Regions from separate parts of the Homo sapiens genome. Here region 2 is linked to region 1. Evidence: fine-mapped expression QTL. A gene starts in region 1. The other region holds a variant in brackets. All regions are shown on one strand. Distances are between the middles of the regions.

Region 1 (9,366 bases):
CCGAGCTAATTTATGTAATTTTAGTAAAGACGAGGTTTCACCATGTTGGCCAGGCTGTTCTCGAACTCCTGACCTCAAGTGATCCACCCACCTTGGCCTCCCAAAGTGCTGTGATTATAAGCATAAGCTACCGCGCCCTGCCAAGGATTAGGTATTTTTTAAAATCCAACACATTTTTCTTTTAATGGATCACTTCTCAATGAGTAATGTTTTAACAGGAGGGGGGTTCTGTAAGAGATAGAAAAAAAATCTAATGGCTTTGTCCCAAGATCATTTGTCAATAAAAGCTACTGACCATTTAATATTATTTTAAATTCATAATTCCTTAATCGGCATGGTTTTAGAGCTCACAAAAGATGTTTTGAATCACAGGAAGAAAGCTGTATTTTCTTCATGAGATTAATAATCTAATTTGGAAGGACGAGGAAGGCAGTGGGTGAAACGTAGAAAGAACACGACAGGAAGGTACAGGACAAAGGGTCTCCCCTGACAGGGCCATGGTGGGAAATGAAGATGTGGGTTTCCAGACTCTTCTCAGATGGATCTGAGCATTCCTCATGGGGCTGCCTGGATGGATGTGTGGCTGCCAGGTAACACTTGCTTTGAACAAAGGTTCTGAGCCCAGAGGTTTGAAAACCACTGGCCTTACAATGCCAGACACTGAGCTTCGAGGATGTTGAGGAAGAGTTGCTCCTCCCTTCCCGCAACACCGCCAAGAGGGAAGGGTGAGGGGAAGGGCCAGGCTGCCTTCCTCTTTTCTGTTCTTTATGAGATATGAATCCCTAGAGGCCAAGGGGAAAGCCGAAGGTCAACTGCCCACCTCCGCCAAGGTTCCTGATAACACATCTCAGAGAAGCTCCTCTCCCACCCACAACTGCAGGACTGGCTCTTCAAGGAACACGCCCAAGGCAGCCCAGGAGGCCTGGCCTGCAAAGGCTCTGCCCAGCAGGCACAACTCATGTCTATTCTCACTCCCTACTAGAAACAAGGACCAAGAAAAGCAATTCCAAACCTGAGGAGAGCATTCCTTCTCCTGAGGGTATGGGCTGAGGAGCCACACAGGCCTCGATATGTTCTCCAGCGAGCTCCTGGAGCGAGAAGTACCACAGCCTTGTACCATGATCACAAGTGAAAGACCTCACCTTTCAGAGACCAAACCCTGCTCTGTGAAAGGGTAGCTGAGGCTACTCCACAGAGTTTCAGCAGGAGACCGCCATCCTCCCCATGCTCTGCCAATCCCCCGCACTCCTCCTGACATTAGCATGATGGGGCCAGGCTGTAGCATTCACTGATGTGGCCAGAATACTAACCCATGCATGGCTTCCCATGACACTGAATAAATCCATGATTCAAAGACAGCAAAAGGAAGCCCCTTTGCCCGTGACGGGCAGCATGCACAGTGGGTACAGGTACACACACGTGGGCACCCTCCCCAGCTCTGTGAGCTTTGACAAAGGAAGCTTGGGCAAAGTACCTTGCCTCTCTGCACCTGTTTCCTCCTCCATAAAATCAACATAATACTTGTACCAACCTCACAGCGCTGTTGTGAAGATTAAATGAGGTAACACAGGAAAAAGCACTTAGAACAATGCCAGCCCACACAGGTGCTGGGCTGCATAAGTCATTATTAACTACATGTCCACCCAAAATGTCCTTCTATTTTTGGGTCCTGCATCACTGATGAGTTTCGGTGACGGAGATTAGAATACAAAAAAACAGTTCTTCATATGCCCCGGGCAGTAATTACCATGGTGGCATTTACTCTTGCTTCTTCCTTCATAATACCTCATTTTCTCATTCGTCTTTTTAGGAATAAAACAGAAGCTACTGACAACACGTACTAGTGACTACTTCCATTCCTCTAAATAATAATTTTCCCATGCAATTGTTTAATCATATTGATATGGAACTCGCCTAGCTTTTAGTTAGCCGGTAATTTGTTAACAGTGTGCTCTTGCATGACTGCATATTTGTTCTTAACGATAAGCTTTAAAGTGCTTCTGGCTGCAGTGGCTTACGCCTGTAATCCCAGCACTTTGGGAGGCCAAGGCAGGCAGATCACCTGAGGTCGGGAGTTCGAGACCAGCCTGACCAACATGGAGAAACCCTGTCTCTACTAAAAATACAAAATTAGCTGGGCGTGGTGGCGCATGCCTGTAATCCCAGCTACTCGGGAGGCTGAGGCAGGAAAATTGCTTGAACCCGGGAGGCAGAGGTTGCAGTGAGCCGAGATCACACCATTGCACTCCAGCCTGGGTAACAAGAGCGAAACTCCATCTCAAAAAAAAAAAAAATAACTAAATAAAATAAAGTGCTTCATGATAAATAAATTTCACTTTGTTTTTTCTGTTGTTGTTTGTGTTACTAATACTTCTTGAGGAAGTATATCAGATAGCCCCAGGGTGTCATTCTCATCTAGTCCTTGTGTCTGTGACAGAGAAGGAAAAGAGAGAAGGCAAAAGGGAGGGCAGATATGTTGCTTAAGAGGTCAAGACAAGGCTTAGCTGGGACCTAATTGTCTGACTTAATGTCTGCTTAAGAACGTGCTGTATTATGGAAATGCCCTAACGGGACAGCTAGATCAGGAACTGGGTTTTCTGGGACCATGAGGTTTAGAAATAAGGAACTTCCTTTGCTGACAAAAAGGGATGTTATGTAAACCCCCAAGTCCTTAAGTCATAATACTGAGGCTGCCCTTGAGGGCAGGGTGATGAGACCCTGGTGCACACCCACACAGCTTTCCCCACTTCTTTGCTCAGGACTCTTCAGAGGTCCCTGCAGGGTTCCTCCATGGTTCTAGAAAGTTCCTTGGCACTAAGAACCCTCTCCAGAGATCAAGGGGCCTCTACAACTGATACCATCATTAGATTCTCACTGTAGATTGTGGCAGAGAACTTGCCACCAGAAGGGCTTCCCTTTAATGACCTCCAGGAGAACTGGCTGAAGCCAAGGGCAGAAGCCCTGACACTCTCAGACCTCCGGTGGGGGTGGGGGAAATGGCTACACGGCCTGGGTGGGAGACAGCATCAGCTTCCTCCCTCCCGCCAGAGCAGTCAGGCCGAGGCCAGCTGATGGCACTTTGCTCATTTGGGTCCAGGTTGCCATGGAGATCAGCGATCTCCCTAGATGCCTCCTGACTATAGGAGCAACTAGCGCATTACTGCCGAGGGATCTACATGAGCGCCCTAAGTCCTACTGTGGAGAGGGCCTTCCTGTGGAAGGCTCCTAAGGGTGGTCCCATCCATCTTCTGGCTTGAGTCAAAGACAGAGTTCCAGCATAGTCACTGTTATGTCCGGAGGTAAAAATTCTTTAAACTGAATTTCCTAGATGAAGTAAAGACTTTTTTTTTTTTTAGTATTACATTTTATTTTTACTGCTTCTTCCAGTATTGCACAATCCCATAATTATTGCTATTCAGCTAAAAACATGCCTCGAGGCATTGCAGAAGATGAGAATAATAATTTTAAAAACTGGAGTCAGCAACACGAACTCTTGAAAGCACTAGTATAAAAGCATTCAAGAAATAACTTCCTCTGGCTTCCTTGGACTTGTTTAAGAGATTACTAATGGCAAAATCAAGTGGAAATTTTAATGGATCAGTAGGTCTTTATGAACTATAAGTTCCCCAGATGAAAATCAAAATGCTGCTCGTGATGTATGCCTTAGAACAGGATTGCTGACCTAAGGTCTGGGAACCTGCTAAGGCTGTGGGCTTATGCACTGAGTATTTGAGAGCATTTTTCTGAAAAGGGGAGCACATAGCTCTCAACTACTCTCCAAGGGGGTCCCCCAAATGTTAAATTTAGAGTTTGCTTAGTTGACAGCAGAGTTTCCCGATCGGGTTCCCTTTTGTTGTTCTAGTGAACAGGTAAAAACTCAGTGAAAGGCAGACTGGGAATGTTCTCCTGCCTCCCTTTCTGCCCACAAGCCACATGTCTCATCCTTTTTCTTCCGCTTCCTCTCCTTATTGCCCTCATCTGTGGAATATTGAAAATAAATATTGAGGCCGGGCATGGTGGCTCACGCCTGTAATCCCAGCACTTTGGGAGGCCCAGGCGGGCGGATCACTTGATGTCAGGAGGTCGAGACCAGCCTGGCTAACAGGGCAAAACCCCGTCTCTATTAAAAATACAAAAATTAGCCGGGCATGGTGGCACACACCTGTGATCCCAGCTACTCGGGAGGCTGAGGCAGGAGAATCACTTAAACCTGGGAGGTGGAGGTTGCAGTGAGCCGAGATCGCACCACTGCACACCCGCCTGGGCAACAGACCGAGACTCCATCTCAAAAAAAAAAAAAAAAAGAAAAGAAAAGAAAAAGAAAATAAATATTGAGCACCCTAAGCACCAGACATAGTGCTCAGGGCTTGGGATACAGGGACAAACAAGACACAGCCCATGTCCTTAAGGAGCGGAGAATCGGATAAAAGAAAAGATCCCATGAATGGTTAACTGAATGCACATATTAATTATCAAGAAGCATATGCACAGGATGATGGCAAAGGCAGAAAGACTGCTGTGTAGATACCAAATATTTCCAATCACCCAACCCCCCCCACATGACAGACACAAGTCAAGGAAAAAAATACTCAGGTCTGATGAGTGAGATTTTGCTTGGTTTACTGCCTAGCTGGCCAGCTGGAACTTAAATATCAACAATATCAGGACCAGAACAATGTGTCTTCTCAAAAGTAGATTTAAATTCAGAGACAGAAAGTAGAAAGGTAATTGCCAGGGGCTAGGAGGAGAAGGAAATGTAGTTAGTATTTAATGGATACACAGTTTCAGCTTGGGATGACGAAAAAGTTCTGGAGATAAACGTTAGTGAGGGCTGCAACACAACGTGAATGTTCTTACTGCCACTGAACTGTGCACTTAAAAATGGTTCAAATGGTAAATATAGCCAGGCTCAATGGCTCACACCTGTAATCCTGACACTTCGGGAAGCTGTGTGGGAGAATCGCTTGAGGCCTGGAGTTCTAGAACAGCCTGAGCAACGCAGAGACCCCATCTCTACTAGAAATCTTAAAAAAAAAAAAAAATTAACGGGGTACAGTGGGGCATGTCTATAGTCCTAGCTACTTGGGAGGCTGAGGCAGGAGGATCACCTAAGCCCAGAAGCTGGAGGTTGCAGTGAGCTATGATTGTACCACTGCACACCAGCCTGGGTGACAGAGCAAGACCTTGTCTCCAAAAAAAAAGAGGTACATTTTAAAGCACGTGCATTATACAACAATAAAATTATTTTAATTGATTTTTTTTCTGTCTGTACTTGATAAAAAGAGATGCCACAACTGCCTATGTCTGCCCAGGTGCTAGAGAAAATTAGTGTGTGGGCCACAAGTTTCACAGCTCTAATGTACATTAGGTTCTTCCATATTTTCCAGAAAGTGGTGCCCCGTCACTGTTCAAGCTGGCACACTCCTTCCAGCTGCAGATATCCCTCCTTCCAGCTGCAGATATCCCTCCCTTGTCCTCTTTAAGATGGGGTCAGCGGGGTTGGGACTGAAGTCCTAGGTACAGAAAGCCCTGGGCTGTAATGATCTAGGCAGACCAAGCCTCACACTCCCTCCTGAGGACTTCCTGCCAAGCAGTATCCCCTCCCTACTTGCTGGCCTTGCCAGGCTCTGGGCTCCCTACTGGCTCCTGGAAGCTGTGGGACCCCAGGCAGGGCCCTGCCTGGGCTGAGAGGCACAGTCTCATGTTTCCAACACCAGCAGCCTGAAAGGTGAGCCAGCCTCGCGAGGCCTGCTGGCTGGTTTAGAACTTGATCTTGGTTATCACAGGGACTCCTCACCCTCCAAGCCCCTCTGGCTTACTGGCAGCTGAGATTATTCTAGAGTGTAGTTGTTGATCTAGATTCCGGCTGCCCACGGAGGCATCTGAGACTCACATCTGCTGCAGGCTAGACTTTCACGTGTCTATCAGCAGCGCCCGCCCCTCAGAGATGACAGCACAGGGTGATGCTTATCTTCGGGTCTCTCCTCCTGGGCTCTACGGTGACTCTCTCCGGCTTGGTTACAGCTTCTCCATGTTGCTGTATCAGGACCTGCACTTCCCTGAGAGAGTTCATGGGCCCCTCACCTTCCCTTGAGGATGAAGGAGGATGTGGCCCTGGGCCAGACCCCAACTCCCACCATGGGCCCATAATGGGTCCCTGGATCCCTTCTCTCGCCCTTATCCTCAAAAGCTGCTGTCCTGTCCTTCATCCACTGTCACTACTGTCCTGGGAACAGGACCTTCTCCCCAACTCCCCACTTCCTTACTGGTCCAGGTGACCGGATCTCAGCCTTTAAGGACTTCATCACCAACCTCAAAGGGAAACCAACAGATTGGCTTAAAATCTAAATTAACAGGCTGCGCACGGTGACTCACGCCTGTAATCCCAGCACTTTGGGAGGCCAAGGTGGGTGGATCATAAGGTCAGGAGTTCGAGACCAGCCTGGCCAACATGGTGAAACCCCGTCTCTAGTAAAAATACAAAAATTAGCCAGGCGTGGTGGTGGGCGCCTGTAATCCCAGCTACTCAGGAGGCTGAGGCAGGAGAATCACTTGAACCCAGGAGGCAGAGGTTGCAGTGAGCCGAGATCGCACCACTGCACTCCAGCCTGGGCGACAGAGCGAGACTCCGCCTCAAAAAAAAAAAAAATTCAAATTAATAGATGTGATGATGTTGCCCAGTTTTAAGAAGCAGGATCTGTGGTTTGTAGCTACTGTCTCCACCAGACTGAAGCAGCACTGGGGAAGAGCCATCCCGGCTGCTGGCCAAGGTGGGGGGACCCAACAGCTTGGCCTTCTGCCTTCAGAGGACCATCCTTCCACATGTGTCCCCAGGTTAGCCCCCTCCCCGGGGTCAGGGTATGTATCCAAGAAAAATAAAAGCACACGTCCACAGAAACACTTGTGCAAAAATGTTCCTAGCAGCTTTATTCACGACAGCCAAAAACGGCACCCATCAACAAGCATGGCTTGGTACAGCTTGGCTTAGCTGTAGTCCATTTCTAGAATGGAGCACTACTCGGCAGTAACAGCAAACCACTGGTACATAAAACAACCCAGGTGCTGCTGTCATGGGTTGAATTATGACCCCCTCAAATTTGTATACTGATGTCCTAACCCCCAGTACCTTATTTGTAAGGTAGCTTTATTTGGAAATATGGTCATTGTAGATGTCATTAGTTAAGAAGGGTTCATCCTGCAGTAGGTTGCACTCCCAATTCAATATGATGGGTGTCCTTAGGAGGACCATAGGTCCTTAGGGGGAAATTTGGACATAGAAAAGCAGAATGCCATGTGCAGACTGGAATTATGCTGCCACAAGGCAAAGAACTTCCAGGAGCTAGCAGAGAAGCCTGGAACACATTCTAAATGACACCTTGATCTTGGACTTCCAGCTTCCCAAACTGTGAGGCAATAAATTTCTCTTGTTTGAACTACACAGTCTGTGGTATTTTGTTATAACAGCCCTAGCACACTAATGTGGCTGGCAACAGAAGTCTTGCACAAAATAATAAACACATTCTAGGATCTCATCCACATGAAGTTCTTGAACAGGTTAAACGAACCTATGGTGAAAAAATCAGAACACTGGTTTCCTTTGGAGGGATGGGGGTGGGAATGATTGAGAAGGGGCAAGAGAGAACTCTCTAGGGTGACGGTTAATGTTTTGTGATTATCCTGACAGGGGTTCATGTTACCCAGGGAATGCAATTGTCAAACCTCATCAAAGGACGTGCTTAGGACTTCTGCATTTCACTACATATAAACTTTACCCGACACAGAAAAAACCAGCAACAAGCACCGAGCTCTAGGAAATGACACGCATGACGAAGCCTTAAAAGGATGAGGTATACAGACACCTGCAACTTACTTTGAAATGCATAAAGTAATGAAGATGGCGTGACAGAGGGAAAGATAAAAAAAATGTTCATTGTGGATCTGGGTAACAGACAGATGGGTATTCATGATACTTTTTTCCCCCACTTTTCCATATATTTGAAATTTTTCATAACAAAATGTGGAAAAACATTAACACTGATCATGGTTTCTTTTGGTGCTCTGCTACGAGTTGTACAAGTGCATTGCTGAGGCTCTAGAAGGCACGTCATAAAAGCAATGTAAAAGGAGGGGCGAGGGGACATTATTTTGTGCTGAGATGTGTACTCTTTGTGATGAGAAGTGTTCTTCATTCTACATTCTTTGTAAAACTAATTTAAATTGTGTGAAATGCCTAATTAAAACAGAATAAGGTTTGGGTGATACTAAGAATTTTTTCGTCATTTCAGAGATAGTGAGGATAACCCATACCAACAAACTACATTAGAATGAAATCCCCAGCAATCTCATTACTATATAACCCCCCCATACAAATTGTTCTATTATAAAGATACACGTATGGGTATGTTCACTGCAGCACTATTCACAATAGCAAAGACATGGAATCAACCCAAATGCCCATCAATGATAGATTGGATAAAGAAAATGTGGTACATATACAACATGGAATACTATGCAGCCATAAAAAGGAATGAGATCATGTCCTCTGCAGGGACATGGATGGAGCTAGAGGCCATTATCCTCAGCAAACTAACACAGGAACAGAAAACCAAACACTGCATGTTCTCACTTGTAAGTGGGAGCTGAGTGATGAGAACACACGGACACAGGGAGGGAAACAACACACACTGAAGCCTGTGGGGGATGCAGGGAGGGAGAGCATCAGGAAGAATAGCTAATGGGTACTGGGTTAATATCTAGGTGATTGGATGATCTGTGCAGCAAACCACCATGGCACACATTTACCTATGTAACAAACCTGTACATCCTGCAAATGTACCCCTGAACTTAAAAGTTAAAAGCCAAAAAAAAAAAAAAAAAAAAAAAAAAAGGAATGAAATCCACTCAGTGGGTGGTGAATTACCAAAAGGATGCATTCTTTACAACCTACTGTGGAGGGTGGATTTTGTCCATAGCCCCACAAAACAGAACCAGATCTTCAAACATACACAGGAAGACTCGGCTGAGAACCTCAGGTACAGTGCAGCGCAAATCTTCAGTGCACGCTCACCAGGAGCAACATCAGTACTGTGTTCCCAAGACAGCAGCCAAATCCATGCAACACTGGTTCAGAAATGGTTATCCCAAAGAAAAGATACAAAATAATAACAGTGCCATGCTTTCCTCTTTGAGTGAGGGAAGAAACTCTGAACACAAAATTTAGTTGTTGTTGGGGAATCCAGTGTTTCAGCATTAGCTCAAAGAAAAGAGTATCAATCAATTCCACTTTTCAGTAACCAAATGTTTTCTATTGACTACCTTACCAAACTTATATGTTGCAAGAGAACAGACCCAGGAACAGGAGAAATG
Region 2 (9,366 bases), 54 kb after region 1:
TAATAAAAATGATATATTAGAGGCCAGGCACAGTGTCTCTGCCCTATAATCTCAGAGCTTTGGAAGGCCAAGGTGGGAGGACTGCTTGAGCCCAGGAGTTCAAGGTTACAGTGAGCTATGACTGTGCCACTGCACTCCAGCCTGGGAAACAGAGTAAGACCCTGTCTCTAAAATATATATATATATACATATACACACACACATATATATAAAAAACATATACATATATATATATTTTAGACACATCACACTTAGTAGGTGTTCAGTAAATGCATATCTACCTGTAGACTAGAAAGACAGACTGCATGTCAGATGTTTAAAGCCACGTCTGTAATTCTAACAACACTCTACCAGGGTAGGTGTCTCCCCACTTTCCAAATGAGCATTCTCAGGTTTTTCCACACTGCACACTGCCTCTCTAACAGTATCAGCATCAGCATCATCGTTTGCATCTTACATCCCCATTCTGGTCTCAAAATTACACTTGCCAAACTGCATTAGCTCATTGAGGCATGCATTAATCCCAATATTGATCATAGATACCAATTTGCAGGAAGTCTATGAAACCCTGCACACCATGGGGAGAAAGGACCACAACAACTCCAAACCACAGGGCACACCCCAAAGAAACTCACAAGCTGGCTGCAAAGAGTAATACAAGACTAATAAACATGAAACAGGATAAACATGTCACTGGGCAGTCTATGGTCATGGACAAAGAGAGTCTCAGAGAAGTCACTTGACTTTAAAAGGGGAAACTCATTGTGGAAGGATTCATTAAGGAAGTAGGACTTAGGTCTTAAGATCATATAAGGTCAGATGGTGCAATAGGAAAGAAGGCCAGTCCCTCAGGAAAGCAGTGTACACAGAGAGGTGCCCAGGAGGCTCACAGGTTAGGCTGAACGACGGCCAAGGGTGTAACTAGAGCCCGACAATGGGGCAAGTCAGCCTGCAGCTGCCCGAGGTGCCAACTGATAAGAGATGCTAGGGCATCCTGGGGCATTAAAACACCTCGGTATAATAGCAGATTTATAAGAACTCCTCCCAGAGACTATTACACATCATGGAGGCAGTTCTTTGTTCCGCCTCCTGGGACAGAGGGTGAGACCCTAAAGGGCCTCCAGGAGCCAAAACTGAAGGCCACCAAGCACCCTTCTAAAGATAACAAGTGCATCTGCTGCAGGGACTTGCTTCTGCTTGGAGGGTGTGCCAGCTCAAGGCCAGGGCTGCATTATTCAGAATCATAGTGGAGGCTGAATGCTGTCAGCAACCCTTCTCCCCATGACCCTTTTCCTATAAGGCATCCCCTCCCAAAGCTGGTAAACAGAAACTTAAAGAATATTGACTTGCCGGCCAAGTTATTAGCTTGCCTGGGGCACCCAGATGTCTCAGCCAGTCTACAGATAATATCTATATTTGTTTAACTCTCTACTGCTGATCAACTACTTTTACAAGTTAGATTATTTTTACAACAGCAATGAAAAAAGCACTAAACCTCTCATAGAGGAAAATCCTGAGTGTCAGAGTGGGTAAATGGCCTGTTCAAGAAAACTGGCAAGTTGCAGAGCCAGGTTTTGGACCAGGGTATCTGTCCAGTGGCCCATCTGCTCTATTACTGCTGCAGATGGACTGCTGCAATAGTTGCAATACTCTATAAAGTTCCTGACCGTTGACAGAGAGCTTTTACAGAAGTCTTAGGCAGTACACACAAATACGAACATTTTCAATTTTCCTAAAAGTAAAATAACATTAACAATAATACTTGTACTCTACTTCTTCAAAAACCCATCTTTCCTCCTGGCTATGTACTTTGTCTCACTACATTTATAAGGTAAGTGAATCGTTATTATTTAGATGACTGCTAAAGATATATAAGTAAAGTCTTTTTTTTCTTTCTTTTTTTTTTGAGACAGAGTCTCGCTGTATCACCCAGGCTGGAGGGCAGTGGCGCGATCTCCATTCACTGCAACCTCCGCCTCCCAGGTTCAGGCGATTCTCATGCCTCAGCCTCCCAAATAGCTGGGACTACAGGCGCGCGCCACTGCGCCTGGCCAATTAAAGTCTTAAATCTTAGATAATTTTTTTTGTATTTTTAGTAGAGACAGGGTTTCACTATGTTAGCCAGGCTGGTCTTGAACTCCTGACCTCGTGATTTGCCTACCTCAGCCTCCCAAAAGTGCTGGGATTACAGGTGTGAGCCACCTCGCCTGGCCAAGTAAAGTCTTAAATCTTAGATACTGGTCTACTAGTAATTCACTGCTTAGAATGACCTTGCATTTGTGCCACATATCTGCCCATTTCCATTTTCCTGCCACCAAACTCCTGCCTCCACTCCCAATCTTCCCTCAGTGACACGTGATGTCATATAAGCAGCATCTTCCTACATGTCCATTTTACATTAGGACTTGTTTTCAGGAAGTGGCTACATCCAAGGCAGACATAAAATCAGGACTTGAAAAATTTTCCAAAAAACAATCATTCACTCATTTTTTGGCAAAAACAATAGCAGTTATACAAGATAGATGAGTCTGTACATTTCATTTTTAAAAACTTCAGACTTCCAGTTTTTCAGAGCATTTCTTTAAAATTCCTAGGTCACACAAATTATTTAATAAACAATTTGTCAATTTGCCTTGCACAGTGGGGAGAACGTTATACACAAAAATGTACACTGAGCAAATCAAAGTGCTAGTGACAAATAAGTAAGCCACCTCCCTCCCCTCATCATCACGCCCACGAAATAAAGATCAAAAACTCCCTTCGCCAACCACAGGGAGGCCTCTTTTTCTATTTCTTTCTCATAACACATAATGGTACCAAAAAATCATAATGAAAATAAGGTCAATATACTTAATCCATAATATAATAATCTCAACTAATTTTAGTCATCTCTCTTTCTAACAACACTTAAACGATCAGGCCACACTATGCAAATCAAATTAAAATTTATTTTTTTGCTTTTTTCTTCCAGTCCCAAAGGAAAACTCCAAATACCACTCATCTTGCTGAAAACCACAGTAAAGTTATTTAATTCCAGTTAAACCAAATATTTCACCCACACACTCTTAAACTTTAATCTTAAACATATCCATGAAATGTGATGTTTGAAGAGCTTTCCTTATTTACTCACCAGATCATCAATATACAGAGAGCTCTTCCTAAGCACAGGCCCCCATCTATGTTTTCAGTCGATACTAAATATTTAGAGAAATACTCTGTTACAGTAACTTTTAAAAAAATTCTACACTATCATTTGAATTTTTAAAAAAATTTAGTTAAGCTTAGTTTCCATAATTCTCATTAGGCAATCCAGGATGTGGGTGTTTTTTAATTTCCTTTTCATGGAGAAAAAGGAAGCTTTGTATCAGGACATCAGATGTATATGGGAAAATACATATTTCAATGCACATATAAGTAAATACATATTTTGTTTGTTTAAAGATCCTTTTGCCTACTCCACTCACAATGTAAATACACCACAGTCAAATTCCATAAATTCAGTTTTAAATGTATGTATGAAAACTAGGTTTTCTACTAAAGTTGACCAGAGCCCAAAACACTCTGTCTAATACACAGTCAAAGGAAACAGCAATCAGCCCTTAGATGCCCCGAAAGAAACTATTCTTTGTTTACCTAGAAACTGAAAGATTTTACACTGAGAATCACAGCTGCTACAGCAATGGAGGTATGCTCTGAATCCAGATAGCCATATTAGACTCTCATTGATTTGTTAAAAATTTAACATTGTAAATGAAACCAAAGCAACCACCAACACCAACCAGGTAATTAAATTCCTGGTTGGAAGAAGTTTCAAAATCCAAGCCCAATGTCAACATCTGGCAAGTCTCCATTTACCACCTACCAATACTTGCTCAAATTACACTGAAAATTTAGATAGAGGGTAAAGTACTAAGATTTTTAAAACCTATTAATTAGTTTGTACCCTCCGTTTAAATCACACATAAAAGCTAACTCCAATTGCAATTATAATCTTAGTGTTTGTCCTGTTGTCACAGAAGGGCAAGGGCTGACAAGAGTTAGCACGGACAATTAAATCTGATTTTGTCCAGGGGACTGGATCAATATACTGTGCATCATAATCTAGCCCTGAACTGCTGCCTCTCCTCCACCCCCAGGCCCTTGGATCAGGCGGTTTACCGCTGGGTTAGTAACTCTTTTCTCTATGATTTGCGCATCTCCAGAAAGGGCGAGGGAGACGCCTGATTCAAACTGCATTTGTTTACCACCCAATGGCCCCATCGTTATGCATTTCCACAATCCAG[G/A]AGGGTACGCTTCTGGTACCCCCTTTACCTGCCAAGTTCCTCGCCGGTGTCGTAGTAATCATCCACGTTTTCCTGCCTGAACACGGTCATGATAAACTGTCACGCCTCACCAAAGCCCAGGGCACTTCAGCTCCGCTTCCCAGACCATCACCACCGCTCCTGCGCCTCCGTAGCCCCCTCATGCATCAGTCTCCAGTCCTTTTGAAGAAAAAAAAAAGGCAATAATAATAGTAAAATGGCAACCCCAAAAGGAAGTAGACCTCCCCGGCGCTAAGACCCCGCTCGCTGAAGACCGGGTCTCCGGAGCTGCCCCTCCTCGCGGGGTGGAGAGGAGCACCCTTTGTTAAAGCTGGGCGGCCAGGGACGCCCCCGACCCCTCAGCCCCGCGCGCGCGTGGGGCCGGGCACCACGGCACCCCGAGGTCGGCGTCCCCAAACGCTGGGCGGTCTGTTGGGATCAGAACCGGCTCCGGAAGTGACTGGCCTCCCCGCCTCCCCTTTCTCTGCACACATGCCCACCCAGCTTTCCCACCTCCAGGGACGCCGCGGAAGAATGAAGCCCTCGCCCAGACGGTACGCGCCTCACTGGGAGCAATCTCTCTCCAGCCTGCGGCAACGGTGGCACCCCCGCGCCACCTCTCGGCTCCCGCGCCTCTCCTAACACCGTGGCCACCCTCTCCCCTTCCCCGAGCGAGGCAGTCCCCAGAGCCACATTCCTGGCGACTCCCTCTCCGTTACCCGGCCGACCCGGCGTGCGGCCGCCCGGGGGAGCAAGGGAGGGAAGGGAGCGGCCCACCGAGGCGCAGCAGTTCGCTCCAGATCCTCGCGCCCCGACACAAAGCGCCTGGTCGGGCCGGCGCCACCTGTTCTCACCCGGCCCGCGGGGCTGGGGAAGCCTCCCGGCTGCGATCGCACTTCTCCCCGAAGCCAAGTTTCCCTCCGCCTTGGCCTTCCCAGTTGCTCGAGGCACTGCCCGGACAAACCCCACCGCGCCCTGGCTGGGAAAGCAAAAGCTGGCGCCGGGGGTCGGGGGGACCGGGGAGCCGCGCCTGGCTACTCACCCGGGCGCCTGGGAGCTCCCCCGGTCCCTCCGGAGCGCTGTCGGAGGCCGACCATAGGCGCCAGCGCCGGAGACTAGCCGGGGCGGCGGCGGGAACACAGCTAGGGAGTGAGTGGGGGGCGCAGATCCCTCCCAGGCGCCGGCCCCAGACCCTGCCGCTGCGAGTTGCCGAGTCCCCTCCGCGGAGGGAACAAAGTCCCCGGCGTTGGCTCGGTCCGGCTGTCCTCCTCACACTCCGAAGCAGCCTCTCGGCTCCTTGCCGCCTTTTGGGCGGAGGGCGGCCGGCAGGCGGCCAATGGGGACCCTGCAAGCGGGCTGGCGGCGCGGCCCACCCACCTCCGAGCTGCCCTGCCAGGCCGGCGCTGCGGGTTCTGCGCGGCGCTCGCTGCTCCTCCCAGCTCCGCGCTCCGGGCTCGCTGGCGCGCTCTACCGCGCACACCCCGCACACACCCACTCGCCCCACACCCACGCCGGCCGGGGAGCCAGTGCGTCCGCCCGGAACGCGGGCGCCCCACCTGTGACACATTGCTAAGCTGCCCTCTGACTGGGTTCTAGGGAAACACGGTTCTTCCGTCCCGAGATGTGTACTGGGATCCCAGCTTGTGCCGGGCACGGTGCTTGGTATGGGAAAATCACATAGAACAAAACAGATTTTTTTAAATCCCTGCCTTCCGGAAACCTGCATTCTGGTGGGACAGATAGATAATAAATATGTAAGCTAATTAATAAGGTAATTTTGGAGGATCAGTCCTACGTTTACCACGAAACAGGTTAATGGAATAGAGAATGGCAGGAAGGGAGCGTACCTCATTAGACTGGGTTCCTCTGCCGGACTGGTGTTGGAGCCGAGGCTTGAAGGCAAGAAGGTTTGCAATCTGAAGAAAGGGTTGAGGTCTCCGAGACCCAAAGAAGCAACAGAGACGCAGAGTTTATTTGCGCTATCCCATATGCTATTGGCTATTGTTGAGCTGAAATGTAGCTAGTCCCAAATTAATTGTGCTGTAAGTGTAAAATACACATTAGAGTCCAAGACAGTATGGATATGAGAATGAAAAATATCTCATGAATATTTTTATATTCATTACACTTTCAAATGATAGTATTTTGGATACGTTGGGTTAAACAAAATATATTATTAAAATTAATTTCACCTGTTTACTTTCTTTTTTTTGAGACGGAGTCTCACTCTGTCGCCAGGCTGGAGTGTAGTGGAGCGTGGCAACCTCCACCTCCAGGGTTCAAGTGATTCTCCTGCCTCGGCCTCCCCAGTAGCTAGGACTACAGTCGCGCGTCACCATGCCCAGCTAATTTTTGTATTTTTAGTAGAGACGGGGTTTCACCGTGTCGACCAGGATGGTCTCCATCTCTTGACCTCGTGATCCGCCCGCCTGGGCCTCCCAAAGTGCTGGGATTACAGGCGTGAGCCACCGCGCCCGGCCTCACCTGTTTACTTTTTAAAAGGTGGCCACTAGAAAATATAACAGTACCTATGTTGCTTGCATGAGATTTCTGAGGACTGTGCTGGTCTACACAAAGATCCCATATCCACTGGAGACCTCTATCCACTTTCTCTACTTCCCACCCCTTGCTCCCACCTAATGTTTGGGTGGAGACGAAGAAGGGTTGATTCCCCACATCCCACTGCTGGAGAACCCCAAACGGTGAAAAGCTCCTAAAGGGAAATCTATTTTACTGCCTAGAATGATGAAAACTGACAGATGAAGAGATTTCCGATCCATACCGTTGTTCAAATCCCCAGGCTTTCTAAACTGAGTTGGTTCAAATCTCTGTGGTTCAACAGAAATTTTCAACTGTGAAGATTTTGGCCTCTTGAAAACAAGGCAAAACAAAACAAAAGAATACCCCTCAGGCCTTATGTCAAATCCTAGTCTTTTTTTTTTTTTTGAGACGGGTTTTCGCTCTTGTGGCCCAGACTGGAGTGCAGTTGTGAAATCTTGGCTCACTGCAAACTCCGCCTCCGCCTCCCGGGTTCAAGCGATTCTCCTGCCTCAGGCTACCCAGTAGCTGGGATTACAGGCATGTGACTATGCCCGGCTAATTTTGTATTTTTAGTAGAGACGTGGTTTCACCATGTTGGTCAGGCTGGTCTTGAACTCCTGACCTCAGGTGATCCTCCCGGCTCGGCCTCCCACAGTGCTGGGATTACAGGCGTGAGCCACTGCGCCCAGCCAAATCCTAGTCTTAAATAACATTGCATTAATGACCCACAGGAAGGGCACACAGGAATCAAGGGGAAGTCCCCAAATTGGGAGATGGTATTAGCTTAAGCAGTGGGCTTGATAATACAAAAGGGTCTTGAGAGGTGAGAAATACAGTCAAAAATAACAACAACAACAAAAAAAGAGTGATTCATCTGGGAAAATGCAAATGAATACATCTGTTGGGAGAAAAAATTTAAAACACAGATGTTTGGGATAAACTTGGAAGGTGTTTATGGATGACTGCCATATGGGTAATATTTATTTTCTGCAAAATAAAAAATATATTGTCCGAGGCAATTAAAAGGACTGAATCTATTTGGCAGCTAGAATGTCTTAACTACCCTAATGGACAATGATGTTCACCGGAGATTATCTGGAGTAGTGAAAAAGAGCATGAAATTTGGAGTCACAAAATTAGATCTAGTATTGGTGGAACCATTTAACAGCTTAATAACCTTGGATGAGTCACTAACCCCCGAGCTTTTTGTGTACACCAATTTAGACAAGCATTTTAGAAAGGGGAAATGTGGTCATTTAAAAACATATTCACAAATTCTTTGACACTCCCCCAATCAAGAGGTGGAGTCTAATTCCCCTCTCAATAAATATTCACCAACCCTATCTGCTTGCTTCTAAGAAAAGGTAGTGGCAGTGGCACAGTGTAATTTATTTCCAAGGTTAGGTCATAAGGCATTAGAGCTTCTGCCTGCTTGCTTCTCTTTCTCTCTCTCTCTCTCTCTCTCTCTTTCCCTCCCTCCCTCTCCCCCTCCACCCACTCTAAAGCCTTCAGCTGTCATGATTACCCTAGGGCTGCCATGTAGAGACATGTGACAAAACCACAGAAAGAACGAGAGATGCCCAGAGAAGCCAGCTGTCCAGCCCCACCCTCACTCCCAGTTGTTTATATCTTCCAGTTCAAGTTCTGTGAGCAAAATCAATGACTTTTAATGTTTTAAGTCATTATTTCAGAGTGGTTTGTTATGTAGCAATAGATTATCTTCTTAAAAAGAAAAATTAAGAAAACTTTTCTCTTAACACATACCAGGTTCCAGACAGATGAAATAATTCTCTCAATTAATCTTTAAATAAATTAGCGGGGTTTTTATTTAATAAATAAATAAATAAATAAGTGGTTATTTCCACTTTACATGTAAACGTCTCAGTTTCATCACCTGTGAAATGAAGATGATTATAGACCCTTACATATTCCTTGGGTTTGTTGGGAGAATCTAAAGAGATAATGCATGAAACAGGACTTTGTACATTATAAAATACACCAGAATGTTGGATATTTTATTTTCTATCATGTCCCTAGCAAAAAGGACTCAGAGAGGCATCTCACACATAGAAGGCAACAATATAAGAAGCCACAAATTATGAGATGCCAGTTGAGAAGGACTTCTATAAAAATAATTATGATATGGACTATGGATTATAATAATGATGGCGATAATATTTTAAACAAACCCGACTGTAGATTTTAGAACATTATTTTACAGTCGTATTAGGGTAAAATAACCATTGCTATAAGACCCAACAAATCCCAGAGGTTTAACACATTAAAAATGTGTTACTTGCTCTCAGCACAAAGGTTTGCAGGGCATAAGCAGAGATCAGCTCCACAGTAGTCATTCAGAAACCCAGGTTTCTGCCATCTAATGAATCCATGCTCCTCCAGCGTAAGTTCCTCAGTTTATCCTTTCCATCTTTTGGCTGATGAGAGAAGAGATAATACAGGGAGGATTGCACTGAAGGTTTATGTAGGAGGTCAGATTTGAAGTCTGAGACAATCATTTTCTGGC

Direction of the effects. Positions count from the first base shown, and alleles are read on the strand shown. Sizes are in standard deviations (SD) of each study's normalised expression.
With allele A in place of G in region 2, the expression in monocytes of the gene that starts at base 4,347 in region 1 is lower (large effect, 0.89 SD a copy in BLUEPRINT).

Evidence for each region. PIP is the estimated chance that this variant, and not a neighbour inherited with it, causes the effect.
Region 2: its variant is fine-mapped to the expression of DAPK1-IT1 in monocytes (BLUEPRINT, PIP 0.95).

Annotation. Positions count from the first base shown.
Region 1 is chr9:87,548,435-87,557,800 of GRCh38, reverse strand. It overlaps DAPK1-IT1 (DAPK1 intronic transcript 1), which reads right to left and starts at 4,347. Exons shown (of 2, transcript NR_146781.1): 1 at 4,211-4,347; 2 at 3,342-3,906. The region is part of intron 2 of DAPK1 (death associated protein kinase 1); the gene reads right to left. RefSeq lists an enhancer at 1,798-1,967.
Region 2 is chr9:87,494,085-87,503,450 of GRCh38, reverse strand. It overlaps DAPK1 (death associated protein kinase 1), which reads right to left and starts at 5,584. Exons shown (of 26, transcript NM_004938.4): 1 at 5,344-5,584; 2 at 4,312-4,481. The coding sequence starts at 4,373. RefSeq lists enhancers at 800-859, 4,478-5,235 and silencers at 4,626-4,735, 4,946-5,135, 5,506-5,855, 5,876-5,935. The variant G/A (reference allele first, on the strand shown) is at 4,284.